Regions from separate parts of the Homo sapiens genome. Here region 1 is linked to region 2. The links come from fine-mapping of genetic effects on gene expression. A gene starts in region 2. The other region holds a variant in brackets. All regions are shown on one strand. Distances are from middle to middle.

Region 1 (13,694 bases), 210 kb before region 2:
AGTGCCTGGCCCCCACGCGTCCCAGTGCCGCAGCGCAGCGGGGGATGCTGCCCCCACCCCCAGGGCCGCGGGGTCAGGTCCCCAGCCCGGCCCAGCCGCTCACGAGGTGTCCGGGCAGCGCCTGCAATGCAGCAGCAGTCGCAGAGCCTAGAGGGGAGGAGGGGAAGAGGAAGGGAGGCGCCTGGGTACCCCTTCTCCTTGTCCTCGAGGTGAGGATTGAGGGCCCATTCTGCTGGCTGGGACCCCCGACGGCCCCTCCTCAGCCCTAGCCAGGAAGGTCTGCAGGACCTGGGGCCCCGAGTGATGTGTGGGGTGATAGGGTGGTGAGTGGGGCTGTGCATGCATTTGGGTGAATGTAGCCTGCTTCTGTGTGTGTGTTGTGTGGGTGTGTGAATTGGGTGTGTGCGCCCTGTAGTCAGGTGAGGGGCGAGTGGGTGCCTGGCTCGGGTTGTCACCCAGTGGTCTAGGTGTGCGCATGTGAGTGAGTCCCTTTGTGGGCAGGTCTCTCCCTGTGGAGTCTGAGGAGCCTGGGGGTCAGTTTGCAGTGGGGGGTGGGGAGATGTGCACTGTGGTCAGGTGAAGGTCTGGTATGTCTCTGGGCTTCACTGCACGTGCAACGTGTATGTGCACGTGTGTGTCCTGTGGTGGATGGGTATGTGGTGTGTGCGTGTGTGTGTGTATGTGTGTGTACCATGCTACGGTTCTGGGAGTCTGTGCCCTGGGGACAGGCGAGGGTCTGGAGTTTCCTGGGTGACAGGCAGTGTGGCCCTCCACGGTGGGTGGGTCTGTGATGAGCATGTGTTGGAGGGGCGTGGACAAGTGTGTGTGCACCTGACAGGCCTTGCAGGTCAGCTGGCGCTGTGCTCCCATGCTGGGTGATGGGGACAGGCTGTATCTGGGCTGGGCTAGGGGGTGGTTCCTCTCCTCTTGGGCCTCTGGAGGCCTGGTAGGTCTGGGGTAGGAGAGGTGGCCCCTTAACCCCCCTTTTGTTGTTTCCACTTTTTTCCTCCCCTTTTTACCCTTCCCCTCGCCCCACTTTATCCCTACCTGCTTCTCTCTCCATGGCACCTGAGGGTGAGGTGGCTAGGCTGGCAGCCCTGCCAGGGAGGGTGTGGCAAGCCCTCTGAGCCAGGGAGTGGCCCCTGCTGCCCAGTAGCTGTGTCCCACCCCCTTGCTCAGCACAGATGGGGAGTGGAGGATGGCCCTCCATCTGCTCCCCACCCCAAGACTCGCACCTCCCCCGTTCTTGAGGCTCCCTCTTTCTCATCAACTCAAAAGCCTCTGCCGAGACTTCTGAGTCCCTATGGAACAAGGGACCAGAGGGAGTCTCAGGGTAATGGTGATCATATTTATTCCCATGGCCAGACCCTGTGCTCACTTCTTCACACATATGATCTTGTTGAATCCTCACAATAGAACCAGTTTACAGATGAGGAAATTGAGGTCCAGAGAGGATGAGGGACCTGCCCAAGTCATACAGTAAGTAGTGGAGCCAGCACTGGCTCCTGGGCAGTGGAACTCCAAAGCCCATGCTGTTTACACCTCAGACCCCTTCCACCCTGGCTTCCCAAACCAACAGGACCAAGAATCAAGGCCCAGAGAGGGCAGAGATATAGCCAAGTCCACACAGCAAATCAGGGCAGAGCCAGGACCAGAACCCACAATAGCCAGTGCAAGGATCCATCCCTCCTGGCTGAGGTGGGCCTGCTGTCTCCTGTGTGCGGTTTGCCGAGTGCTAGCACGGCACAGTGGAGGATGGGTTTGGGGCAGCGAGTCCTGGGTTTGAATATGCAGCGCCACTGTGAGTGAGCTGGAAATGTGAAGCCTGGAGCAAGCTGCTCATCCCTCTAAGCCTCAGTTTCCTCCTCTGTAAAATGGGGCTCACGGTATCACCTTCCTCAGCCGGGTTAAGCAAAGTGGCAGGCCCCACTGATGGCCCCACCTGACACAGACTTCCCTTTCTCTGCCCACCTGCAGCAGCGGCCCCTGAAACAGTCCCTGGGAAGCTCCCTGTGCCGCGAGTCGCACTGGAAGTGCCTGCTCCTCACGCTGCTCATCCACGCCTGCGGGGCCGTGGTGGCCTGGTGTCGCCTGGCCACAGTGCCGCGGCTGGTCCTGGGGCCCGAGGCCGCCTTGGCCCGGGGAGCCGGGGGCCCGCCACCGACCTACCCGGCCAGCCCCTGCTCCGATGGCTACCTGTACATCCCGCTGGCCTTCGTCTCCCTCCTCTACCTCCTCTACCTGGCTGAGTGCTGGCACTGTCACGTGCGGTCCTGCCAGGCGCCACGCACCGACGCCCACACGGTGCTGGCGCTGATCCGCCGGCTGCAGCAGGCGCCGCCGTGCGTCTGGTGGAAGGCCACCAGCTATCACTACGTGCGGCGCACACGCCAGATCACGCGCTACCGCAACGGCGACGCCTACACCACCACGCAGGTGTACCATGAGCGCGCTGACAGCCGCACGGCCCGCGGCGAGTTTGACTACTCGGCGCACGGCGTCCGCGACGTCTCCAAGGAGCTGGTGGGGCTGGCGGAGCACGCGGCCACGCGGCTGCGCTTCACCAAGTGCTTCAGCTTCGGCAGCGCGGAGGCCGAGGCCTCGTACCTCACGCAGCGGGCGCGCTTCTTCAGCGCCAACGAGGGCCTGGACGACTATCTGGAGGCGCGCGAGGGCATGCACCTGAAGGACGTAGACTTCCGCGAGTCGCTCATGGTCTTCGCCGACCCCCGCAGCCCGCCCTGGTACGCGCGCGCCTGGGTCTTCTGGCTCGTGTCGGCGGCCACGCTGTCGTGGCCCCTGCGCGTCGTGGCCGCCTATGGCACGGCTCACGTGCACTACCAGGTGGAGAAGCTCTTTGGCGCCAGCTCGCCCCCGCCGGGGGCCGTGCCCAGCGGGCCCCCGCTGTCCCGCGTGGCCACAGTGGACTTCACTGAGCTCGAGTGGCACATCTGCTCCAACCGGCAGCTGGTGCCCAGCTACTCGGAGGCCGTGGTCATGGGCGCGGGCTCGGGCGCCTACCTCAGAGGCTGCCAGCGCTGCCGCCGCTCTGTCAGCAGCAACTCGCTGCCCCCCGCCCGGCCCAGCGGGCCCCGCCTGCCCTTCAGCCGCAGCCGCCTCTCGCTGGGCGCTGGCGGCCGGGCCACGCCAGGGGTCTTCCGCAGCCTGAGCGGGGGGCCGCTGGGGCGCCGTGGAGAGGACACGGAACCCCTGGAGAGCCCGCCCTGCTATGAGGACGCCCTCTACTTCCCGGTGCTCATTGTCCACGGAGACAGCGGCTGCCAGGGGGATGGGCAGGGTGCTCTCTGAGACCCCCCACGGCCCCCAGAGTGGCCCCCTCCCCACCATTCCACCATGGGCTTAGATGCCCGAGTGATTGTTGTCCAAAACAGGCGGGAAAACAGACCAGCCACACACAAGGGGCAGGGGTGAGGGTGGGGGTGGGGGTCCTTAAACAGACTAAAATGCAGTTACCTGTGGTCATTTTGGAGGAAGTGGAAGCCTAAGAATCGCCCCCAGCATGGCTTCATCCCCCAAGATGGCCGATGATCTGGCCTGAAGGCCTCTCACAAAGGGCAGGAGAAGAAGCTTCCAGAAAGGCTGGGATGGAGGAGGAGTCCTGCGGCCAGCTGTTGCCTGCAGCAGAGGCTGCCTGTGGACACTTCCCTACCGGGGCTGAGGCCATGCTGGGA[G/GC]CCCCCCCAGTGACGCAGAAGCACAAATTGGAGGCTTGGGGCCATGCCCAGCCAGGTTGGCTTCCCTGGGGCTGAAGAGCTGGCTGTGGTGGCACCATGGCCTTGGCCCTGCTACTCACCCAACATTCCCATCCTCCCCTGATAGGCCCCTCCTCCTTGCCTGCCCTCTCTCCCGCTGCTCAGGGCCAGTCACTCCCCCCACATGCAGCTACCCCTACAACCTGGGGTTCCTTCTCAGGGCCTCACCTGGTCCCCACATCCCCTGGCCTCTGCTCCTGCCTCCCAAAGTCCATGTCTGCCTCCATCAGCCACACACACGCAGGGACGCCCGTTCCTTGCCCTCCCGGACTTATCTACTCTTCACTTTCCTGATGATCCATGGGGCCCAGGCCTAGAGGGCATCCGAGGGGCTGGGCCTTGGCCACAGCCTCTTGGATGATGTCCTTGCTCCACCACGCAGGCCCTTGCTTCTCCCATCAACGAGTCTTGGCCCAGGGGACACTGACCCTCCCCCAGGGAGGAGAGAGGAGTTCCTTCCCTTTCAACGAGGGCTTCCACGCCCTCTAAGGGGTGGCGGGGAAGGGAGGAGGCTGAGAAGATGCAGATTAAATAAAGGTATGGAATGGAAGGCCTGTGCATTCCTGGGTCATGGGTCTAAGGCCTCCACTGCAAGCATTATGGGCCCCCATGGTTCAGGGCACGATGAGGGGTTCTGGGAAGGGACTCAGAATTGGGCTCCAGTGTTCCCAGGAACCAAGTAAGCAGAGGAGAGGAAACCTCCCCTGCCTAGCCTGGGGCCTCTGAGACTCAAGTGTGAGGCGCTCTGAGCACCTGGCTCCCCTGACTCCGGTATCTGGGCCTGGGTCACTGCTAAGGCATTGTCAAGGTGGCCCTTGTTCCAGCTCAGTGGGACATTCCACTCTGCTGCTGGGCATGCCGAGGGCTAAGGGAGTGGTGGCCGGTCCCCAAAGTGGGGAGAAAGAGCTATGGTCTGTGACTCGAATTCGGTGCCCCCCCAGCGGCTACTGACATTATCAATCTGAGGGAAAGGGCATGAAGCAGGTCAGAAGACACAAAGCTGGAAAGGGCAGCCCCAAACCAGGGCAGGCTGGCATGGAATCCAAAGGCAGAGAAAACATCAGGGAAAAGGAAGGTCCTGACTCCCTGATGGAGCTCTGAAAGATTCCTGGACGTGGCATTGTCACATGTGCAGCAGTAAAGGGTGTTCACTGTGCAAGGGCAGTGGGCTAAGGGGCAAGCGTGCATGGAATCCAGCCTACAGGCCACTCCCCAAACTCTGGCATGGAGCTACATCCACTTGGAGAAAGGGGACCGTTTTCCTTTTCACGCAAAGGTGGCTTAAGGGCTAGTGGTGGCCCGGGAAGTGTGCTGAGAATGGGTGGATTTCACTAAGCAAAGACATGGCAAGCAATGTCTTGGACAGCCGATGCTGCCCAGACAAAGGCCTGGTTGTCGGGCATGAGCTGAGGTGTGACAAGGAGATAGAAGCAAGAAGCCATGGAAGGCTTTGCTGCAGCTTCCATGCCAAACCCTAGAATTTGTCCTTAAACTGGAGCAAACTGGGCAATCTGGAACCATGGAAGGGGGTTGGGCAGGGACGTGATACAGTCAAGGCTGCATTTTAGGATATTTAGCAAAAGTCCAGCGACCTGCTGGCTCTGTCGGGAGGGTGGAGTGAAAGACCAGAGTTCTCCCTGTGCGTTAACCCACAGCCTCTCTTCTTTGGGTGTGAAATCAGTTCCTCGTTCAGAAGCAAATTAGGTGGAAAACCCTGTGGTGCCCAAACATTCAACAAGGCTGCAGGGGGTGGCCAGGCACAGTGGCTCATGCCTGTAATTCCAGCACTTTCGGAGGCCGGGGCAGACAGATCATTTGAGGTCAGGAGTTTGAGATCAGCCTGGCCAACATGGTGAGACACCCCCCACCCCCGTCTTTACAAAAAATACAAAAATTAGCTGGGTGTGGTGGCGGGCACCTGTGACAGCTACTCAGGAGGCTGAGGCAGGAGAATCGCTTGAACCCGAGAGGCAGAGGATGCAGTGAGCTGAAATTGCGCCACTGCACTCCACCTGAGACTGTCAAAAAAAAAAAAAAAAAAAAAGGCTCCAGCAGGTAGGGAGGCCAGCATGCTGGTTTCAGCTCCTTGCCATGGGAAAGACCCTTTTTCCACCATTCTGCTCTAACACCATAGCCAACAACTGCCCACTGGCCACTCACTGTCCATTCTCCTCCCTTCCCCAATAACAGAACCCCAGTTTTGCTGCAGAAGGCAATGTGCCCAGCTAAAGGGCAACATTTCCAGCCTCCCTGGCATATATGGTATGACTGTGTGGCTGAATTCTAGGATATTAGATATAAACAGAAGGTGCTGGAAGGGATCTCCAAGAATGCCCCTTGAATAGAAGCAGTATTGATGAAGGCCATTTTTGTCCTCTCTGCTTCAGCCTGCATTCAGCCTTGGATGCATATGTGATAGCTGGAACGCCAGCAGCCATCTTGGAGCAGGAAATGACCTTGAAAATTGTAGCCACAGGCTGGGCGCGGTGGCTCATGTCTGTAATCCCAGCACTTTGGGAGGCCAAGGCGGGCGGATCTCGAGGTCAGGAGATCGAGACCATCCTGGCTAACACGGTGAAACCCTGTCTCTACTAAAAATACAAAAAATTAGCCAGGCGAGGTGGCAGGCGCCTGTAGTCCCAGCTACTTGGGAGGCTGAGGCAGGAGAATGGCATGAACCCGGGAGGCGGAGCTTGCAGTGAGCCGAGACTGCGCCACTGCACTCCAGCCTGGGCGACAGAGCAAGACTCCGTCTCAAAAAAAGAAAAGAAAAAGAAAATTGTAGCCACATGCTGAAGACAGCAGAGCAACAAGGGAAAAGATCCTGGGCTTCTGATGACACCATGCAAGTTTCCATGTCATCCCTTGGGTCGCCTACCTCCAGACTTCAATGAGAAAGAGAAATAAACTGTAAGTCTGCTTAAGCCCATTGCTTTTTTTTTTTGTCTCTGTTACCAGCAGCTTTTACCAATTATCTACTGCCACATAACAAATTATCCTAACCCTAGTGGCTTAAAAGAGCAATAATTATTATGCTCTCTCCTGGCTTCTGTGGGTCAAGAACTCAGATAGGACACAATGGGGATGGCTTCTATGCTCCACGACATCCAGGGCCTCTGCTGGAAGACTCAAAAGCTGGGGCTTGAATCATCTGAATGCTCATTCACTCACATGTCTGGCAGTTGATGCTGGCTGAGGGCTGAGGGCTGAGAGCCTAACTAGGGCTGTTGGTGGGAACACCCACACAGGTCCTCTCCAAGCGGCTTGACCTTCCTCATAACATGGTGGCTAGGTTCCAAGAACAAGTATACTGAGAGGGTGAAAGCTGTATTGCACTTTGTGATCTAGCCTCCTAAGTCACATGGCATCACTTCTGCCCCTTTCCATCGGTCAAGGCTACTATGAAGGTCCACTCAGTTTCAAGGGGAGGGAATATAGGATCTCATCTCTCTGTGGAGGCTTGTCAATGTCACATTGTTAGAAAAGCATGCGGGATGGGAGATATATTAGTGGTCATCTTCAAAAATGCAATCAACTGCTGAGCCAAATGCCATTTGCCATTCCTAACTGATTGATACCTGTAAAGTGATCTGCAAAATGAACACCAAGCTCTTTATAGTGCTGGTTTAAGGAAGGAAGGTGGTGGCATGTCAGATATGGGCCTGCTCAGGGCAAAGTGAGCTGCTCAGATCATTTATGGGGACCTTCAGGCCTATGGTAGATTAAATATGGCCACAAATTCTTTGCCACTCCTCTCCTCAAGAGGTGGAATCAGGCCGGGCACGGTGGCTCACGCCTGTAATCCCAGCACTTTGGGAGGCCAAGGCAGGTGGATCACTTGAGGTCAGGAGTTCAAGACCAGCCTGGCCAGCATGGTGAAACCCCAACTCTACTAAAAATACAAAAATTAGCTGGGCGTGGTGGTGTGCACCTGTAGTCCCAGCTACCTAGGAAGCTGAGACAGGAGAATCACTTGAACCCAGGAGGCAGAGGTTGCAGTGAGCTGAGATCACGCCACTGCACTCCAGGCTGGGCAACAGAGCAAGGCTCCATCTCACAAAAAAAAAAAAAAAAAAGAAAAGAAAAGAAGTGGAATCTGTTCGCCCTTTAAATCTGGGCTGGACTTGTGATTTGCTGTGACTGATTGGATGTGAGGGAAGAGATGTTGGCCCACTTCTGAGGCTAGGCCTCAAGGACTCTCGCAGCTTCCACCTTTGCCCTCTTGCAATCCTGAGACCACCATCTGTAAAGATGTCCAGCCAAGCCTCCTGACAGATTTGAGGCTGCGTGGAGAACTGAGGCCCCCAGCCAAGAGCCAGCATCAGCTCCAGATATGGGATGACAGAGGCCATCTTAGACACTGTAGCCCCACTTGAGCCGCAGATGACAGGAGCCTCAGGAGTGACCCAAGGTGAGACCAGCAGATGAACTACCAAGCTGATCCCAGCCCAGACTGCTGTCCTATAGAATGAGGGGAAATAAATCCTTGTTTTAATCCACTACATTTTGGAGTGATTTGTTACATGTTACATGATCACTGTCACAAGGCTCTAAACCCACCTGCACCTCATGAGGGAGGGCACTGGGCCTGCACAGCCAGGAAGAGGAGGGACCCAGAAGCCCCATTGTTTGATGGACAGCTCTCAGCTCACAATCTCCTGATGGGAGATGGGGTGGCCACGTGTTCAGACTCTCTTGGAGTCAACATCAAGCCAAGGTGTTCTGTTCTAAACCGTTCTCAAGAGAAGAATTCATGCCTGAGAAGGGGTGCAAAGCCTGGCTCCCAAACCCCAGCGGCCTCTGCCTCTGCTCTCTCCTGACATAGGCTACCCACAGCATGGCAGGAACAGAACCTGTAATTTCCACCCCTACCACCATCTGCTCCTCTCTGTCTTCCATCTCAGGAAATAGAGCTACCATTCAGCCAGTTGCCTAAGCCAGGCACCAGCACGGCAAGCCTCTTCTTTTTTTTTTTTTTTTTTGAGATGGAGTCTCACTCTGTCGCCCAGGCTGGAGTGCAGTGGCCAATCTCAGCTCACTGCAAGCTCCGCCTCCCGGGTTCATGTTCATGCCATTCTCCTGCCTCAGCCTCCCGAATAGCTGGGACTATGGGTGCCCGCCACCATGCCCGGCTAATTTTTTGTATTTTTAGTGAGACAGGGTTTCACTGTGTTAGTGTTAGCCAGGATAGTCTCGATCTCCTGACCTTGTGATCTGCCCGCCTTGGCCTCCCAAAGTGCTGGGATTACAGGCATGAGCCACCGCGCCCAGCCGCCTCTTTTTTTTTTTTTTTTGAGATGGAGTCTCGCTGTCACCCGGGCTGGAGTGCAGAGGCGTGATCTCAGCTCACTGCAACCTCCGCCTCCCGGGTTCAAGTGATTCTCCTGCCTCAGCCTCCTGAGTAGCTGAGATTACAGGCACATGCCACCATGCCTGGCTAATTTTTGTATTTTTAGTAGAGACGAGGTTTCACCATGTTGGTCAGGCTGGTCTCAAACTGCTGACCTCGTGATCCGCCCACCTCAGCCCCTCAAAGTGCTGAGATTACAGGCGTGAGCCACCCCGCCCGGCTGTCTCTTCTTTTTTTGAGACCGAGCCTCGCTCTGTTGCCCAGGCTGGAGTGCTGTGGCGCAATCTCCGTTCACTGCAGCAACCTCCGCCTCCAGGGTTCAAGCGATTCTCCAGCCTCAGCCTCCCGAGTAGCTGGGATTACAGGCACCCGCTGCCACGCCCATCTAATTTTTGTATTTTTAGTAGAGATGAGGTTTCTGCATGTCGGCCAGGCTGGTCTTGAACTCCTAACCTCAGGTGATCTGCCTGCCTCAGCCTCCCAAAGTGCTGGGATTACAGGCATGAGCCACCACGCCTGGCCTGTTCTTTCTTTAAAACTTTGTATTATGTAAAATTTCAGCTTGTAATCCCAGCACTTTGGGAGGCTGAGGTGAGAGGATCACTTGAGCTTGGGAGTTTGAAACCAGCCTGGGCAAGATAGTGAGAGCCCATCTCTACCAAAAAGTTAACAATTGGCCAGGTGTGTTGGAGCTCACCTGTAGTTCCAGCTACTCAGAAGGCTGAGGTGGGAGGATCGCTTGAGCTGGGAGGTCAAGAGGTCAAGGCTGCAGTGAGCCGTGATTGTGCCACTGCACTCCAACTTGGGTGACACAGCAAGACTCTAGTCTCAAAAATAAAATAAAATATCTTTCTTTCTTTTTTTTTTTGTTTTTTGTTTTTAGACAGAGTCTCGCTCTGTCACCCAGGCTGGAGTGCAATGGTGCAGTCTTGGCTCATTGCAACCTCTGCCTCCTGGGTTCAAGTGACTCTCCTGCCTCAGCCTCCCGAGTAGCTAGGATTACAGGTGTGTACGACCACACCTGGCTAATTTTTCTAAAAAATAAAATAAAATTTCAAACATCACAAAAGCAGAAAGATTGGTGCAGTGAGGCCCCTTCTACTCAGCACCCAGTGCTGTGATGATCATCCACCTGCAACCACTCTGGGCTCCATCCACACTCAGCCCCACTTATTTGAGCTCCAACTGGATTATTTGAAGAAGACCTAGAAGCTGTAGCATTTCGTCAGCTCCCCTCACCCGCCCCACCACGCGTGATATCGACCACCCAAGATTCTACTCAGAACACAACACACCCCACCTCCTCTCCACCCCAAGCCACCTTGCTCCAAGTGCCCAGGATTCCTCCCCCATGACTCCGACAGGCCTCCCACGCCCACTTACTCCTGCGGCCTATGCAGAGACCTCATGTAAATCAAATCACGTCCCCATTGGTTTCTGTCTAAAGTTCTCTCCCACCAACTCTCAGCTCGCTTTGCATTTCCTTTCGGCCACTCACCATAAGTTACAATTATTTTCATTTATTTATGCACGAGTTTCTTTATCTGTTTCTTCTATTAGAATTAAGGCCATGGGGCTGGTCATGGTGGCTCACGCCTGTAATCCTAGCCTTTGGGAGGCCGAGGCGGGCGGATCATGAGGTCAGGAGATCGAGACTATCCTGGCTAACACGGTGATACCCTGTCTCTACTAAAAAAAAAAATACAAAAAATTAGCTGGGGCGTGGTGGCGGGTGTCTGTTGTCCCAGCTACTTAGGAGGCTGAGGCAGGAGAATGGTGTGAACCTGGGAGGCGGAGCTTGCAGTGAGCCGAGATGGCGCCACTGCACTCCAGCCTGGGCGACAGAGCAAGACTCTGTCTCAAAAAAAAAAAAAAAAAAAAAAAAGAATCAAGGCCATGGGAGGCGAATAGTTACACGGCCAGACCCTTGAGTTGGTTGGAATAATTCCAACTCTCCACTACAACCTGAGAAGCCCTGGGCAAGTCACTTATTCTCTCTCTTCTTCAGTCTTCTCATCTGCAGAATGAGAGATGACAATAGAACCTATTTACTTCAGGCCGGGCGCGGTGGCTGACACCTGTAATCCCAGCAGTTTGGGAGGCTGAGGCGGGAGGATCACGAGTTCAGGAGATCGAGACCATCCTGGCCAACATGGTGAAACCCCATCTCTACTAAAAATACAAAAATTATCCAGGTGTGGCGGTGTGTGCCTATAGTCCCAGGTACTTGGGAGGCTGAGGCAGGAGAATTGTTTGAACCTGGGAGGTGGAGACTGCAGTAAGCCAAGATCACGCCACTGCACTCCAGCCTGAGTGACAGAATGAGACTCCATTTCAAAAAAGATAGATAGACAGATAGATAGATGATAGATAGATAGATAGATAGATAGATAGATAGATAGATAGAGATATATACTTTTTTTTAAATTCATAGACAGGGTTTTGCCATGTTGCCTAGGCTAGTCTCAAACTCCTGGGCTCACAAGATCCTCCTGCCTCAGCCTCTGCAGTAGCTGGGACCAGAGGTGTACGCCACCATGCCCAGCTATATATGTTTATATTTTGTAGCGATGGGATCTCCCTATGTTGCCCAGGCTGGTCTCAAACTCCTGATCTCAAGCAATCCTCCCACCTCGGCCTCCCAAAGTGCTGGGATTACAGGTGTGAGCCACTGTGTGCCCAGTCAAATTTTTTTTTTTTTTTTTGAGGCAGAGTCTCGCTCTGTCACAGAGGCTGGAGTGCAATGGTGAGATCTTGGCTCACTGCAACCTCCACCTCCCAAGTTCAAGAGATTCTCCTGCCTCAGCCTCCTAAGTAACTGGGATTACAGGCATGAGCCACGATGGCCAGCAATTTTTTGTATTTTTAGTACAGACAGAGTTTCACCATGTTGGCCAGGCTGGTCTTGAACTCCTGACCTCAAGTGATCCACCTGCCTTGGCCTCCCAAAGTGCTGGGATGACTGATGTGAGCCACTGCACCCGGCCTATAAATAAATATATATTTTTAAATATTTATTTATTCCCCATCTAATCTTATAGACGGCCTTATCTAAGGCTCTCTTATTTATTTATTTATTTTTGAGACGGAGTCTTGCTCTGTCTCCCGGGCTGCAGTGCAGTGGCATGATCTTGGGTCACTACAACCTCTGCCTCCTGGGTCCAAGCGATTCTCCTGCCTCAGCCTCCCAAGGAGCTGGGACTACAGGCATGTGCCACCATGCCTGGCTAATTTTTGTATTTTTAGTGGGGATGGGGTTTCACCATGTTGGCCAGGCTGGTCTCAAACTCCTGACCTCAGGCGATCCACCTGCATCGGCCTCCCAAAATGCTAGGATTACAGGCAGAAGCCACTGCACTCGGCCAATAAATATTTTCTTAAAAGATACTATGTGACCGTGCTTAAATCAGGGTCTCAAGCATAGGAAGTGCTCAATAAAGATTGCTATCATCATCATTTGCATTATTATAAATTACAAGTGGACGCTCCCTCTTACAACATACGCACACTTCACCAGCAGCCAGCGCAGTGCCTGGCACACATAATGGATGTCTAGTCAATCTGTGTTAAGTGAATGATTCCCGATCTCCTACCAACACTTCCAACTTCCTGGGGTTAGCTGGGTCCTGAGGGCCAAGTGGACCACGGCCCAGACCAGCCAAAGTTTTCATTGCTTGGCCACACTTGCAGTGGAGCTTTTCTGATCTTTGGTTAGTGGGCTTGAGAACTTAGGGCACCCAGGGAAGCATTTGCCAACTACCTAATCCAGCAAACCATGGCATTCTATGTTTCCTCCTTGGATCCAGACCCCAGACCACTAGACCCCTAGAGCTTCCCCGAGGTGGCAGGCCCAGGTGCATTCATTTTTTGTGAGTTTCATCTTCCCTCTTACATCACACCTGCTGCCTTCTGTTCTTCAGAGCCCGTGAGTATGAAGTCACTGCTGAGATGGCCTGGGATGTATCTGGAAAGGGCAAGGAGGATCAGGCATCCAGCCAAAAGTTGGATACACCCTGAGTGAGGATGGGGAAGGTGCGCTGCTGCCCTTCTGGGTAAAGGTCAAAGCTCCTGGAAGTCAGATTCAACAGAGACCAAGACAGACAGATTGGTTAAACTGATGACTACATATCAAATGTAGCTGTGCCACATCTGCTCCAAGGAGGCATTTCTGTCCAGAATATCAGCTGAGACTGAAATTGGCTAGTTCTCAGTAACCCATGGTCACAGTCCAAAAGATAGATGTATTTTTCTTTTTTCTTTTTTTCTTTTTTTTTTTTGAGACGGAGTCGCGCTCTGTCACCCAGGCTGGAATCCAGTGCCGCAATCTCGGCTCACTGCAGCCTCCGTCTTCTGGGTTCAAGTGATTCTTCTGCCTCAGCCTCCCGAGTAGCTGGGATTACAGGTGTGTGCCACCACGCCCCACTACTTTTTTGTATTTTTGGTAGAGACGGAGTTCCACTGTGTTAGCCAGGATGGTCTCGATCTCCTGACCTTGTGAGCCACCCACCTCGGCCTCCCAAAGTGCTGGGATTACAGGCATGAGCCACTGCGCTTGGCCATAGATGTATTTTTCT
Region 2 (14,402 bases):
TGGGGACTACTGTACTGACAAAGGGTTCATATTTAAAATAAATAAAGAACTTTTCAGCCGAGCACAGTCGCTCACACCTGTAATCCCAGCACTTTGGGAGGCCAAGGCAGACAGATCACTTGAGGTAAGGAGTTCGAGACCAGCCTGGCCAACATGGTGAAACCTGTCTCTACCAAAAACATAAAAAATTAGCCAGGCGTATTGGCAGGTGCCTGTAATCCCAGCTACTCAGGAGGCTAAGGCAGGAGAATTGCTCAAACCTGGAAGGTGGAGGTTGCAGTGAGCCAAGATCATGCCACTGCACTCCATCGCGGGCAATACAGCAAGACTCCATTTCAAAAAATAAAGAAAGAAGAAACTTTTTTTAAAAAAGTGAAGGAGAAAAGATAACCCAACATAAAATAAGCAAAAATGAACAGAAGAGGAAAATGAATAGCCCTTGATCAACTAAGGGAAGATGCTCAACCTTGTTAGTAATTAGGCAACCTCAACCTAAACTGCATAAGTTACAATTGATACCCACCAGCATGGCAGGAATTAACAACTGCCAGCATCCACTTAGTAGACTGAGCAATGAGGACTGCCATCCACTGCTTTTGGAAGGCTGAATTACATACGAATTTTAAGAAACAGCAGCGTCATCTCTTAAAGTTGAGCACTCCTGTCACCGACACAGAATCAGTTCTGGAAAAACTTGCATCTGTTCATCAGGAGACATACAGGGATGTTCACAGCAGCATTATTAGCAAAAAGCACCGGCCGGGCGCACTGGCTCACGCCTGTAATCCCAGCACTATGGGAGGCCATGGCGGGCAGGTCACCTGAGGTCAGGAGTTTCAGACCAGCCTAGTTAACATGGTGAAACCCCATCTCTACTAAAAGTACAAAAAGGCTGGGCATGGTGGCTCACACCTGTAATCCCAGCACTTTGGGAGGCCGAGGCAGGCAGATCACCTGAGGTTAGGAGTTCAAGACCAGCCTGGCCAACATGGTGAAACCCCTTTTCTACTAAAAATAAAAAATTAGCCGGGTATGGTGGCATTTGCCTGTAGTCCCAGCTACTCAGGAGGCTGAGGCAGGAGAATCGCTTGAACCAGGAGGTGGAGGTTGCAGTGAGCCAAGATCGTGCCACTGAACTCCGGCCCAAGCGACAGAGTGAGACTCTGTCTCAAAAAAAAAAAAAAGTGCAAAAAAGTTAGCCAGGCATGGTGGCGCATCCTGTACTCCAAGCTACTCGGGAAGCTGAGACAAGAGAATCACTTGAACCCGGGAGGTGGGGATTGCAGTGAGCCATGATCGTGCTGCTGCACTCCAGCCTGGGCAACAAGAGTGAAAATTACGTCTCAAAAAAAAAAAGCACCAAATTACACATGAACAGTAGAGGAGATGAAGTTGTGTGTTTATAAGTAAAAGACTACATACACAGCAGTGAGAAGGGGAACTATAGCTGAATGTTTTGGCACAAATGAATCTCAAACATAATCCAAGCAGAAAAAGAAAATCACAATATATACAGTTCAAAAACCGGCCGGGCACAGTGGCTCACCACTGTAATCCCAGCACTTTGGGAGGCTGAGGCGGGAGGATCACCTGAGGTCAGGAGTTCGAGACCAGCCTGTCCAACATGGTGAAACCCCACATCTACTAAAAATACAAAAATTAGGTGGGCATGGTGGCAGGTGCCTGTAGTCCCAGCTACAGAGGAGGCTGAGGCAGGAGGATCACTTGAACCTGGGAGGTGGAGGTTTCAGTGAGCTGATAATCTGCCACTGCACACCAGCCTGGGTAATAGACTGAGACTTTGTCTCCAAAAAAAAAAAAAAAGCAGGCAAGAACTTAATATATGATTGAGAGTAAAACTCAGGGAAAGCAAGAGAGTTTTTTAAAAACTACAATATCGGCTGGGCACGGTGGCTCACGCCTGTAATCCCAGCACTTTGGGAGGCCAAGATGGGCAGATCATGAGGTCAAACGATTGAGACCATCCTGGCCAACATGGCGGCCCGTCTCTACTAAAAATACAAAAATTAGCTGGGCGTGGTGGTGCACACCTGTAGTCCCAGCTACTCAGGAGGCTGAGGCAGAAGAATTGCTTGAACCTGGGAGGTGGAGGTTGCGTGAGCCAAGATCACGCCACTGCGCTCCAGCCTGGCAACAGCGAGACTCCATCTCAAAAAAAAGAAAGTACAATATCAAGGATAGTGGTTTCCTTAGATGGGGACAGCCACAGAGTGCAGTCAAGCAGAAGCAGCTGAACTAACTCTGAGGTGAGGTGGGGGTTGTATGAGTGTCCGTCTTTTTTTTTTTTTTGATGGGAGTCTCGCTCTGTCCCCCAGGCTGGAATGCAGTGGCAAGTTCTTGGCTTATTGCAGCCTCTGCCTCCCGAGTTCAAGAGATTCTCCTGCCTCAGCCTCCCGAGTAGCTGGGATTATAGGCGTGTGCCACCATGCCCAGCTAATTTTTTTTTTTTCGAAACCAAGTCTCACTCTGTCGCCCAGGCTGGAGTGCAGTGGCGTGATCTCAGCTCACTGCAAGCTCCGCCTCCCAGGTTCATGCCATTCTCGTGCCTCAGCCTCCCGAGTAGCTGGGACTACAGGCACCCGCCTGGCTAATTTTTTGTATTTTTTAGTAGAGATGGGGTTTCACCCCATGTTAGCCAGGATGGTCTCGATCTCCTGACCTCGTGATCCACCCGCCTCGGCCTCCCAAAGTGCTGGGATTACAGGCGTGAGACACCACGCCCAACCAAATTTTTTGTATTTTTAGTAGAAACGGGGTTTCACAGTGCTAGCCAGGATGGTCTTGATCTACTGACCTCATGATCCGCCCACCTCGTCCTCCCAAAGTGCTGGGATTACAGGCATGAGCCACCCGCCCGGCCCGAGTGTTTGTTTTAATATTCTTTACGGTATACATACTGTATCTTGTATGTGTAAGAAATGTTTTATTTTATTTATTTATTATTTTTTTGAGATGGAGTCTCACTTTGTCACCCACGCTGGAGTGCAATGGTGCAATCTTGGCTCACTGCATCCATCACCTCCTGGGTTCAAGCGATTCTCCCACCTCAGCTTCCTGAATAGCTGGGACTACAGGCACCACCATCAAACCTGGCTAGTTTTTATATTTTTGTAGAGACAGGGTTTCACCATGTTGGCCAAGCTGGTCTTGAACTCCTGACCTCAGGTGATCCGCCTGCCTCGGCCTCCCAAAGTGCTGGGATTACAGGTATGAGCCACCGTGCCCAGCCAGAAATGTTTTATTTTATAAAGGGTAATGGTCATACCTGCCTTGTCTACATGTCAAATGAGATAATCAAACGAGAAACATTAGCTTTAATTTTGTGGGCATTTACTCTATGCTAATCACTGATCTGTGTTTCTCACTCATTCAGCACAGTAACACTATGAGAGAGTAGAACTATTCTTGTTTAGAGATAACAGGTCAGAGTGGTTTAGTAACTTGTCCAAGGTTACACTGCCTGTAAGTGACAGGGCCCAGCATTTTGCAGAGTGTCTTAGTCTGTCTTGTGCTGTTGTAACACACCAAAAATACCAGAGGCTGGGTGATTTATAAAGAACAGAAATTGGCCAGGCATGGTGGCTCACGCCTGTAATCCCAGCACTTTGGGAGGCCGGGGCGGGGCAGATCTCGAGATCAGGAGATGGAGACCATCTTGGCTAACATGGTGAAATCCCATCTCTACTAAAAATACAAAAATTTAGCCGGGCGTGGTGGCACGCACCTGTAGTCCCAGCTACTCAGGAGGCTGAGGTAGGAGAATCACTTGAACCCGGGAGGCAGAGGTTGCAGTGAGCCAAGATTGTGCCATTGCACTCCAGGCTGGGTGACAGCAAGACTCTGTCTCAAAAAAAAAAAAGATCACAAATTTATTTCTGGCAGTTCTGGAGGTGGGGGAGTCCAAGATCAAGGTACCAGCTGGTTCATTTTCTGGTGAAGGCTGCTCTTCTCTTCCATCCAAGATGATACCTTGTTGAAGATACCTTATTTGTAGGAGAGGAATGGGAGGAATGCTGTGGCCTCACATGGTGGAAAGCAAAATGGCAACAGGGCCAAACAGGCATGAAGCCTGTTTTCCTTTTTCTTTCTTTCTTTTCCTTTTTTTTAGAGACGAGACGGGGTCTCACTATGTTAACCAGGCTGGTCTCAAACTCAAGCAATCCTCTCACCTCGGACTCCCCAAGTGCCCAGGATTGCACGCATGAGCCACCATGGCTGGCCTTTTTTTTTCCATAGAGATATGGTCTTGCCATATTGTCCAGGCTGGTCTCAAACTCCTGGGCTCAAGTGATCCCCTGCCTCCTCCTCCCAAGGTACTAAGATTACAGGTGTGAGCCACCACACCCAGCCTGAAGCCTCTTTTATAAGGGCCTTAATCCCATTCAAGAGGAAGGAGCCTTAATGGTTAAGTTGAAACTTAACCATAAGTTTCAACACCAGAATTTTGGAGGGGACACATTCAAACCATAGCACAGACTGTCCAGGGCTGACCACAATCAGCTGTGGCCTATGGCAGAGCCCTGTGGACACCGGGTAACTGCCCATCCTAGACATTTACTCCATCCTTCTCACAGGTGCTGAAGTCCACAGGGGATGTGGCCGGAGGGCGGGCCCTGTACGAGGGGTATGCAACAGTCACTGATGCGCCCCCCGAGTGCTTCCTCACCCTCAGGGACACGGTGCTGCTGCGTAAGGAATCTCGGAAGCTCATTGTTCAGCCCAACACTCGCCTTGAAGGTAATGAGGTAATGAGGGAGCTCTTGAGCTCCCTTGATGAGCACCACACAGGGCCCTCTGGGAAGCAGTAAGAACCCATCCCAGGGCTCAATAAGAACCTAACCCAGCCTGGGATGGCCCTTCCCTTTCTGCCAAGGTCCTTCCCATGCCAAACCTCAGGCCCTTATCTTGGTATCTGTCACCACCCACCACCCCCCCGACACACACACAGTCATGCAAGTTGTAAGACAGTGACAGAAGATTTGAAGAAGACCACCAGAGCAGGGGATAGCAGAACATGCAGACTTAGGGGGAAGCCAGGCGTTCATACCAAAGAATTAGACCTGTTGGGTACCCAGGCTGGGGGTCAGGTGAGGAGGGAGCTGGGATCCAGCAAGCCTAGTGAAACCCAGGGGACAGTGGACTCGGTCACATCCAGGATGGTGATCAACAGCTGCATCATCCCGCTTCCTTCTCAAGCGACAATTCCAGAGCCTTGGCCACACGGTGCTTGTATCTTTCGTATTCAGACCCCCTGGGGTTCCAGCCCCTTACTGCCTTCACTTTCCTCTCACCCCTTGACTCATCTTTCCTGCTACTTGTCACTTGAGATACCTAAGATGATGTGTGTTATGGAGAGGTTAGAGCACCAGCTTCAGAACCACCCTGTGACTTTGGCCTAGTCACCTGACATTTCTAGACTTTGGTGTCTTCATTCATAAAGGCAGTGTGGACTGCTTGCTGATGTTATCGTGAACCTGAATTCCTTCTTAGAGTTTCTAAGTGCTTTCTGGGGATTAACCTTTTAAATCCTTGCAGTAGCCCAATAAGGTAGGTATTGTTGTTATCCCCATTTTACAGGTAAGGAAACTGAGGCACAGAGAGTAATTTGCACAAGGCTTATGGCTTTTTAGTGGAGGAGCCAAGAGTCAAATTAAGAGTGGTTGAGTCAGGCATGGTGGCCCCTGCCTATAGTCCCAGCTACTTGAAAGAGTGAGGTAGGAGGATTGCTTGAGCCCAGGAGTTCAATGCTACAGAGCAAGACCTCAACTCTTTAAAAAAAAAAAAAAAAAAAAAGCATTGTCCTGGGCAGTTGTGAGGGTTACATAGAATAATATTTGCAAAAAGTCACTACCTATTATTGGTGAGGAAAAAGCATTTATTTATTTGGTTTTTGGGTTGGTTTTGTTTTTGTTTTTGTTTTTGTTTTTTTTGAGACGGAGTCTCACTCTGTCGCCTAGGCTGGAGTGTAGTGACACAATCTCGGCTCATTGCAACCTCCGCCTCTGGGTTCAAGCGATTCTCCTGCCCCAGTCTCCCGAGTAGCTGGTATAACAGGCGCCCGCCACCACACCCAGCTAATTTTTGTATTTTTTTTAGTAGAGACGGGGTTTTACTATGTTGGCTAGGCTGGTCTCGAACTCCTGACCTCAAGTGATCTACCCACCTCAGCCTCCCAAAGTGCTGGGATTACAGGCGTGAGCCACCATACCCGGCTATTTTATTTTATTTATTTCTGAGACGGAGTTTCCCTCTTGTTGCCCAGGCTGGAGTGCAGTGGCTCGATCTTGGCCCACTGCAATCTCTGCCTCCCGGGTTCAAGCGATTCTCCTGCCTCAGCTTCCTGAGTAGCTGGGATTACAGGCGCGTGCCGCCATGCCCGGCTAATTTTTGTATTTTTAGTAGAGACAGGGTTTTGCCATGTTGGCCAGGCTGGTCTCGAACTCCTGACCTCAGGTGATCCACCCTCCTCGGCCTCCCAAAGTGCTGGGATTACAGGCGTGAGCCACCATGCCCAGCCGGAAAAAGCATTTATTAAGACGCTCATTCTAGATGCTTTTCCATGCTCTCCAGAGGCTTCCTGGGATTTGGCCCCAACCCTTGCCAGCCTCACCACCCCTTCTCTGGCTCACTGTACTCCAGTCTCCCGACCTTTCTGTTTCTTCTACCCACTGAGCTGGGTCCACTCCTACAGCCTTTGAATAAGCTGTTCTTGCTGCTTGGCATGATCTTCCTCCAGATCTTTGCCTGTCTGGTTCTTTTTGTCCTTCCGCTCCTTGTAAAACGGCACCCTGTGAGAGAGGTTGTCTCTGACCCCTCCACCTAAAGTAACTGCTTCGGTCCCTCTCTGTTCTGCTACCCAGTTTCATTTTCTTCTAGCGCCCATCACGCTTGCCCATTTTCTTGGTGGTCACTTCTCATGATGGGAGGAGCAGCATACCCCAGTGCCTCATGCACAGCCTGGCACACTGGAGTTGCTCAGTGACTGTCAAATGAGTGCATTAATAAATCATGCCAGCCACATGGACAATACTCTCAATTGCTTTGATATGTCCAGCCCTGTGCGAGCCATGGGGGAGCCACTAGGGATCCGGAGGTGATCACAGCTCACTGGGGATGATAAGATATGGAGATAAATAATCATACAAGGGGGCCGGGCGCGGTGACTCACACCTGTAATCCCAGCACTTTGGGAGGCTGAGGCAGGTGGATCACAAGGTCAGGAGATCGAGACCGTCCTGGCTAACACGGTGAAACCCCGTCTCTACTAAAAATACAAAAAATTAGCCAGGCATGGTTGCAGGCGCCTGTAGTCCCAGCTACTCAGGAGACTGAGGCAGGAGAATGACCTGAACCCGGGAGGCGGAGCTTGCAGTGAGCCAAGATTGCGTCACTGCACTCCAGCCTGGGTGACAGAGCGAGACTCCATCTAAAAAAAAAAATAATAATAATAATCATCATCATAATCATACAAGGGAAGTGTTAATGAGTGGCCAAAACATATAAACAGAACTCTGAACACTTAGAGGAGGGAAGATCGCATCCATCTTCAAGAGTATCCGGGAACGTTCTGGGGAGGAAGGGGTGGTTCCCACTAGATCTGAAGAACAGGTTGGATTTTCAAAGGTTGTGATGGTGGTGCACTGTAAAAAGTTTTTTTTTTTTTTTTTGAGGTGGAGTCTCACTCTGTCCCGCAGGCAGTGGTGAGATCTCGGCTCACTGCAACCTCCACCTCCGGAGTCAAATGATTCTCCGGCCTCAGCCTCCCAAAAAGCTGGGATTAGAGGCACCCACCACCATGCCCAGCTAATTTTGTATTTTTAGTAGAGATGGGGTTTCACCATGTTGGCCAGGCTAATCTCGAACTCCTGACCTCAAGTGATCCACCCGCCTCAGCCTCCCAAAGTGCTGGCATTACAGGTGTGAGCCACCACACCCAGCCAGGTCGCTGTAAAAGCTTTCTATGGCTTAACTCCTAACAACCCAGAGAGAAATGGTTATTATCCTCATTTTTCATCTGGAAAATGAGGCACAGAGGGGCTGTGTATTTGCCTGCGGTCACAAAGCTGTTGGGTGGCAGAGCCAGAACTTGAACTCCAGAGCTTGTGCTCTTTGCTGCTGTGCAGCTTGTGATGTCATGGAACACGACAAGGTGCACAGAGAGGGTAGAGCAGTTGAAGTGTGTTTGAGGGCAGTGCTTCCCGGGGGTATTCAGGGGACCCTCAGAACAGCCCATTTAATAAATCAGTAAACAGGTTCGGAGATAATGATGCCATGGTGGCTAGCATTTGTTGAGCACCCCCTCGATGTGTGACTATGTCATCACTGCAGCTCCTTTACAGATGAGGAGACTGAAGCTTGGGAGGTTGCAACACTTGCCCCAGGTCCCACAGTAGACAGATGAAGTCGTTGCTGAATTGTGAGCTTCAGGACACCAAGGACTGTATCTGTTTCACCTAGTGTGGCACCTGGTGTCTTTTATTATTTATTTATTTATTTATTTATTTTGAGGTGGAATCTCACTGTCACCCAGGCTGGAGTGCAGTGGCACGATCTCTGCTCACCGCAACCTCTGCCACCCGGGTTCAAGCAATTCTCCAGCCTCAGCCTCCCGAGTAGCTGGGACTACAGGCTCATGCCACCACGCCCAGCTAATTTTTTTGTATGTTTAGTATAAACAGTGTTTCATCATGTTGGCCAAGCTGGTCTCAAACTCCTGACCTCAGGTGATCCTCCCACCTCAGCCTACCAAGGTGCTAGGATTACAGGCATGAGCCACCATGCCCAGCCTAAATCTTTATTTGATTGACTGAATGAACGAAAGCAGCAATGCATTTAATACTCCCCCTGTAGTATTTCCTTCCTCACAGGGTTACTGTAAAGAGTAAATTAAGTAATTAACCTAAAACGTAGAGCACAGGTTTTTTTGGCAGAGCTCAGTAAGAAACAGCTGCTGCTGTAATTGTGATTATTAAGATTTTTATGATGATTCAGTTTCCCTATTCAGACCTTTCCCTGCTGTTTTCTCTCCATCTCCTCCCCAGGCTCAGACGTGCAGCTTCTGGAATACGAGGCGTCAGCTGCTGGCCTCATCCGATCCTTCTCTGAGCGTTTCCCAGAGGATGGACCCGAGTTGGAGGAGATCCTCACACAGCTGGCCACAGCCGATGCCCGATTCTGGAAGGGCCCCAGTGAGGCCCCATCTGGCCAAGCTTGAGGAAGATGTGTGGCCTTGCCCCCAATTCCATCAGACCAAGGCTGCAAGTGGCCCTCCATTCGTGTGTGTATTTAGGGGCTGGGGAGGGGGAGGGGCAGGAGCTTGGACCTTGGTACTACCTCAGCTGAGGGTGGTGACACAACCCCTTCCATTTGTCAGCACTTTCCAGCCTGCCAATTGCTTCCCCTCTGTGATCTCATTTCATCTGCACTGCCATACGTGGAGTGAGCAAGACAGGGCTTACCATCCTGTCTACCAGATGAGGAAATGGCAGTTCTGAGAAGTCACTGGTCTAGATCCCGCAGGTGGCACGTGACAGCTAGGGTTCAAAACGTTCTCACCAAATCCAATGCTCCTCACATATTAATTTTATAACCAGACAAATAAATATTAGAGACAACCACCATCTTTGCGGCGTGTGTGGCTCCTCCTTGCCTTTGCCTGTCTTCTCATTTACTCCCAGCAGAGTGATGGGCTCAAGGCCTGGGGAGGGGGCAAGGAGGGCCATTTTTAGCCTCCCTTCCACAACAGGATGTTGACATTATCTCTAGATGAGGATACGCAGTCACAGAGCTGAACATAGCACAATTTTTGCAGCTCTCCTTTGTGGCATTCCTTGCATTTTTAAATGTTCTGGGGCCGGGCACGGTGGCTCATGCCTGTAATCCCAGCACTTTGGGAGGCCGAGGCGAGGGGATCACGAGGTCAGGAGTTCGAGACCGGCTTGGCCAATATGGTGAAACCTCGTCTCTACTAAAAAATAAAGTAGCTGGGCATGGTGGCATGCGCCTGTAATCCCAGCTACTCGGGAGGCTGAGGCAGGAGAATCCCTGGAACCCGGGAGGCGGAGGTTGCGGTGAGCCGAAATCGCGCTACTGCGCTCCAGCGCAAGCGACAGAGCGAGACTACGTCTCAAAAAAAAAAAAAAAAAAAAAAAGTTCTGGGAACCTACAAACTCAACTTCAGTCAGAATCCTCTGCATTTGTCCCATAACCCTCGTGTTTTGTTTCTCTGGGCCTGGACCTCTACAGTAACGCAGCAAGGCAGGACATGGTCCTTTTCAACCGGGTAACCATGAAGATGGAGACAGGAGGAGTTCTTTTTGCTGCTCATAAATGCTAGAAGGGGCTTCTTTCCAACCCTGGAAGCCAGAGGGCTCTGTGGCTGACCCAGAGATTGTAGGACCCAGACGCCTGGAAAGGTGGCTCTGACTGGGAAGGAGCAAAGATAAATATCTTTGAGGAATCTGAGACAGATTCCTCAACCCAGGAAGGTGGCCAGCGCGTCCTCCTGAGCCTGGGTGGGAAAGCTTGGCGCCCGGAACCTTTGTACTCGCCCTTCCCTGTGCTCGGGCACTATTGGGCGTTACGCGAGGGCGGGGCCGGTTGCCAGGACGACGCCTGCGAAGATGGCCGCTGCGTCCTCATCGGATTCCGACGCCTGCGGAGCTGAGAGGTGAAGGCAGGGCTCCTCAAGGCCTCTTTTCCCACCCGTGTAAAGAGGGTCCCTTGGTCCCCGGGCTCTGGGCTCCTGCTGTTCTCGGGCAGTCTGGAAGGACTCTTAAGAGGTCAGATAGGGAAACCGAGGCCTAAGATGTGCATATGTGTGTCTGGAGGTCGCTCGGTGAGCCAGTGGCGGAGCCTGGACTTGTACCCAGACGTTCTGTACCTTATGTTCAGAGTGACCTGTACCAGCTTCCTCAAAGTTTTTTTTTCCCCTCCCATGGGACTCACTCCCCAACTGTCTTTCCCCCACTTCCAGCAATGAGGCCAATTCGAAGTGGTTGGATGCGCACTACGACCCAATGGCCAATATCCACACCTTTTCTGCCTGCCTAGGTGAGTCTCTGGAACCAGGAACCCTGGGTTCTAGTGGGATGGGGAGTCAGACAATGGTCCTGTAGTGAAGCCTCTGGGATTCTGAGACTCTGGTTTTGGCCCTTTTGTTTTCCAGCGCTGGCAGATTTACATGGGGATGGGGAATACAAGGTAAGCATATCACCCTAGCCAGGAGAGTTGAGGGTAGGGGGGTGTACCCAGAAATGAGATTTCCTGACGGCTGAAAATAGGCCCAGCATACTCTGGAATTCACATATACTGTGAAAAAGCACATTTAGCGTTAAATTTTGTTTTTATATGGAAAGTGAAGAGAACTTATTGATTTCATAATACAGACTGCAGAAAGTAAAGCAGATCAAATATTTCTGGGGATTCTACTAAGACAAAGCCTCTTAGTTAACCTGATTTCTTTGTTGGAAGGGCAAATCCCTTGGTTGGGGGTGGGCACTAGAATCTGGAGGGAAAGTAAAAAGGAGGGAAGTGAACGTTTGATGTTTATCAAAAGATTTTAAGATGGGCCATGAGCTGTCAATTTTTGAAGCTGGATAATGGGATATATGGGGACTCATTATATGAGTCTCTCTACTTTTGTATGTGAATGAAAATTTTCCATAGTAAAAATGTTACATTTTAAATTTAATTTTAAGGCCAGCAATCCCAGCACTTTGGGAGGCTGAGGTGGGTGGATCGCTTGAGCTTAGGCATTCGAGACCAGCCTGTCCAACATGGTGAAACACCATCTCTACTAAAAATACAAAAATTAGCCGGGCATGGTGATGGGCACCTGTAATCCCAGCTACTTGGGAGGCTGAGGCAGGAGAATTGGTCAAACCCAGGAGGCGGAGGTTGAGTGAGCTGAGACCATGCCACTACACTCCAGCCTGGATGACAGAGTGAGACAGTTTCAAAAAAAAATATATATATATATATGTGTATATATATGTATATATATGTATATATATGTGTATATATATGTATATATATATACATATATTTAATTTTAAATAAAAATGTAAATTTAAAAAGATACAAGTTTTTTAAAGGTAGAGAAATATATTGGGATAAAAGAAAGGAAGTTAGCATGGATTCAGTATCCATTTCTGGACTAGACATTCCATGGAGGCACATAAACATGGATTTTATTTATTCCCATTTTGTGAATGGGAAAATAGTTTCAAAGAGGTGAAGTTTACTGAATTTGTAACTGGGTCTGTTTGATTCCAAGTTTTGTGCTTTTTCTACCAAAGCTCAGCCCTCACCATGGGCAACAACACCACAATGGATATATCATGTGGGTGGCTAGAAGATAGTCCTGGAATCCCACCCCACACAGAGAGTGCAATAGGACTCAGTGGTTTTTGCCCCCAAATTCCTATCCATAATGTATTCAGTAATTCAGCAAGTGTATAGTGAGTCCCTACTGTGTGTCAGGCATCATGGGGACACTACACTCAGAAATGCATCAGCATGTGGTCAGGAGGAGATACACTGTCGACAATTATTCCATGATATTGATTGAATACCTAGTTTGTATTTGGCTCTGGGCTTACAATAGTGAGGGAAGAGAAACCACAGACACAGTAGCTAATAAGAAATGTTAGCCAGGCACAGTGGCTCATGCCTGTAATCCCAGCACTTTAGGAGGAGGCCAAGGCGGGTGGATCACGAGGTCAGGAGTTTGAGACCAGCCTGGACAACATGGTGAAACCCTGTCTGTACTAAAAATACAAAAATCAGCCGGGCGTGGTGGCAGGCGCCTGTAATCCCAGCTACTCGGGAGGCTGAGGCAGGAGAATGGCTTGAAACCAGAAGGCGGAGGTTGCAGTGAGCCGAAATCACGCCATCGCACTTCAGCCTGGGTGACAGAGCGAGACTCCATCTCAAAAAAAAAAAGAAATGTTAAATATCTTCACATAATAGAATGTTTAATGGCTAGTTTATTCACCATTGAGTCCCAGCATCTAGTCCAGTACCTGACATAAAGTAGGTACTTGATAAATATTTGTGGGGAAGTGAGTAGATGCTAAAATTGAACATGTAGAAAGTATTACGGGAGCGCCAACGAGAACAATGGATTCTGTCTGGAGGCACCAGGAGGTAGTAATGTGTGAACTGGGCATTGAAGGATGAATGAAGTCTATCAAGAAGTCAAGGATGAGAGGATGGGGAAGGCATTTCAGGTAGAAGAAACAGCACAAGCAGAAGGACAGAGACTTAGAAGTTCATAGCATATTTGGAAAGAATAAATGTGAAGTTAGAAAGTTGAGACCCATATAAAATAACTACCACATAAAATAGTAGTTAAGACTATGGCTTTGGATTCAGACAGAACTAGCTCTACCACTTAATAGCTGTATGACTTTTACTTAACTTCTCTAAGACACAGCTTCCTCATTTGAGAAATGAGGCTAATAATGGTGCCTACTTCATAAGGTTGTTGAAAGCCAGGTGTAGTGGCACACACCTGTAGTCCTAGCTGCTTGGGAGGCTAAGGTGGGAAGACTGCTTAAGCCCAGGAGTTTGAGGCTGCAGCGAGCCATGATCGCACCACTGCACTCCAGCCTAGGTGACAGAGCAAGACCCAGTCGCTTAAAAATAATAAGACTGTTGAGAGGGTTAAATGAAACGATGCATGCAGTTTCTGATGTGGTCCCTGGCATATACTGCATGCTCAGTATCCAGGAGTTCTTGGGTACCCCCTTTCTGGCCGGAGCACAGCAATGGGAAGGGTGATAGGAAACAAGTTGGGAACTAGATCAGAGAGGCCTTCCAGGCCTCATTCAGGGAAATGGGCTTGTGTGGCAGCTCCAGCAGCTTGGAAGATGGATTAGAGGGTGGAAAGCTGAGATCAAGGAGCTTGTTTCCCCTCTGTGTGTCCACAGAGCACATCCTGCCCTGCATTTGGAAACCAGGCTTCAGCAGCCCAGATATGGGTGTCCCCGTCCCCTCCCACACTGACCTCTACCACTGTCCCAGTATCTCTCTAGAAGTGCCTGGTGTGGAAGAAATGTTTGCTGAATGAATAATAAAAACATCAACTGCCACTTATTCCTCAGTAGCACTTACCAGGTTCTGTAACTCATTATCTCACTTGATTTTCACCACATACCATGAAAGTATCACCATTCTGCAAGCGGGAAACCTGAGATTCAGAAAGGTTAGTCAACTTTCCCAAGGTCAGGCAGCTTGAAAGCCTGAGGGCAAAGCCTTTATTGGTGCAGGAATGAATGAATGTGCACCAGCAATAAGGCAAGAAGAGGGTCAGTGGAGAGGTCTTCAGACCCTGAGCCTAGAATGAGCCATCCTCTCCCTGCAGCTGGTGGTAGGGG

Alleles and levels. Alleles are on the strand shown, and positions count from the first base shown. SD is a standard deviation of normalised expression in the study named.
As copies of G replace GC in region 1, the expression in unexposed skin of the gene that starts at base 10,619 in region 2 goes up (small effect, 0.16 SD a copy in GTEx).

Evidence for each region.
Region 1: its variant is fine-mapped to the expression of BBS1 in unexposed skin (GTEx, PIP above 0.99).

Annotation. Positions count from the first base shown.
Region 1 is chr11:66,292,345-66,306,038 of GRCh38, forward strand. TMEM151A (transmembrane protein 151A) reads left to right here. Exons shown (of 2, transcript NM_153266.4): 2 at 1,978-4,320. The coding sequence ends at 3,309. Among named protein-coding and RNA genes, the nearest start is that of TMEM151A, 7.3 kb to the left of the region's middle. The variant G/GC (reference allele first, on the strand shown) is at 3,693.
Region 2 is chr11:66,500,017-66,514,418 of GRCh38, forward strand. It overlaps BBS1 (Bardet-Biedl syndrome 1), which reads left to right and starts at 10,619. Exons shown (of 17, transcript NM_024649.5): 1 at 10,619-10,690; 2 at 10,997-11,073; 3 at 11,189-11,223; 4 at 14,390-14,402. The coding sequence starts at 10,644. DPP3 (dipeptidyl peptidase 3) reads left to right here. Exons shown (of 18, transcript NM_130443.4): 17 at 4,596-4,758; 18 at 9,063-9,641. The coding sequence ends at 9,235. RefSeq lists an enhancer at 10,481-10,530.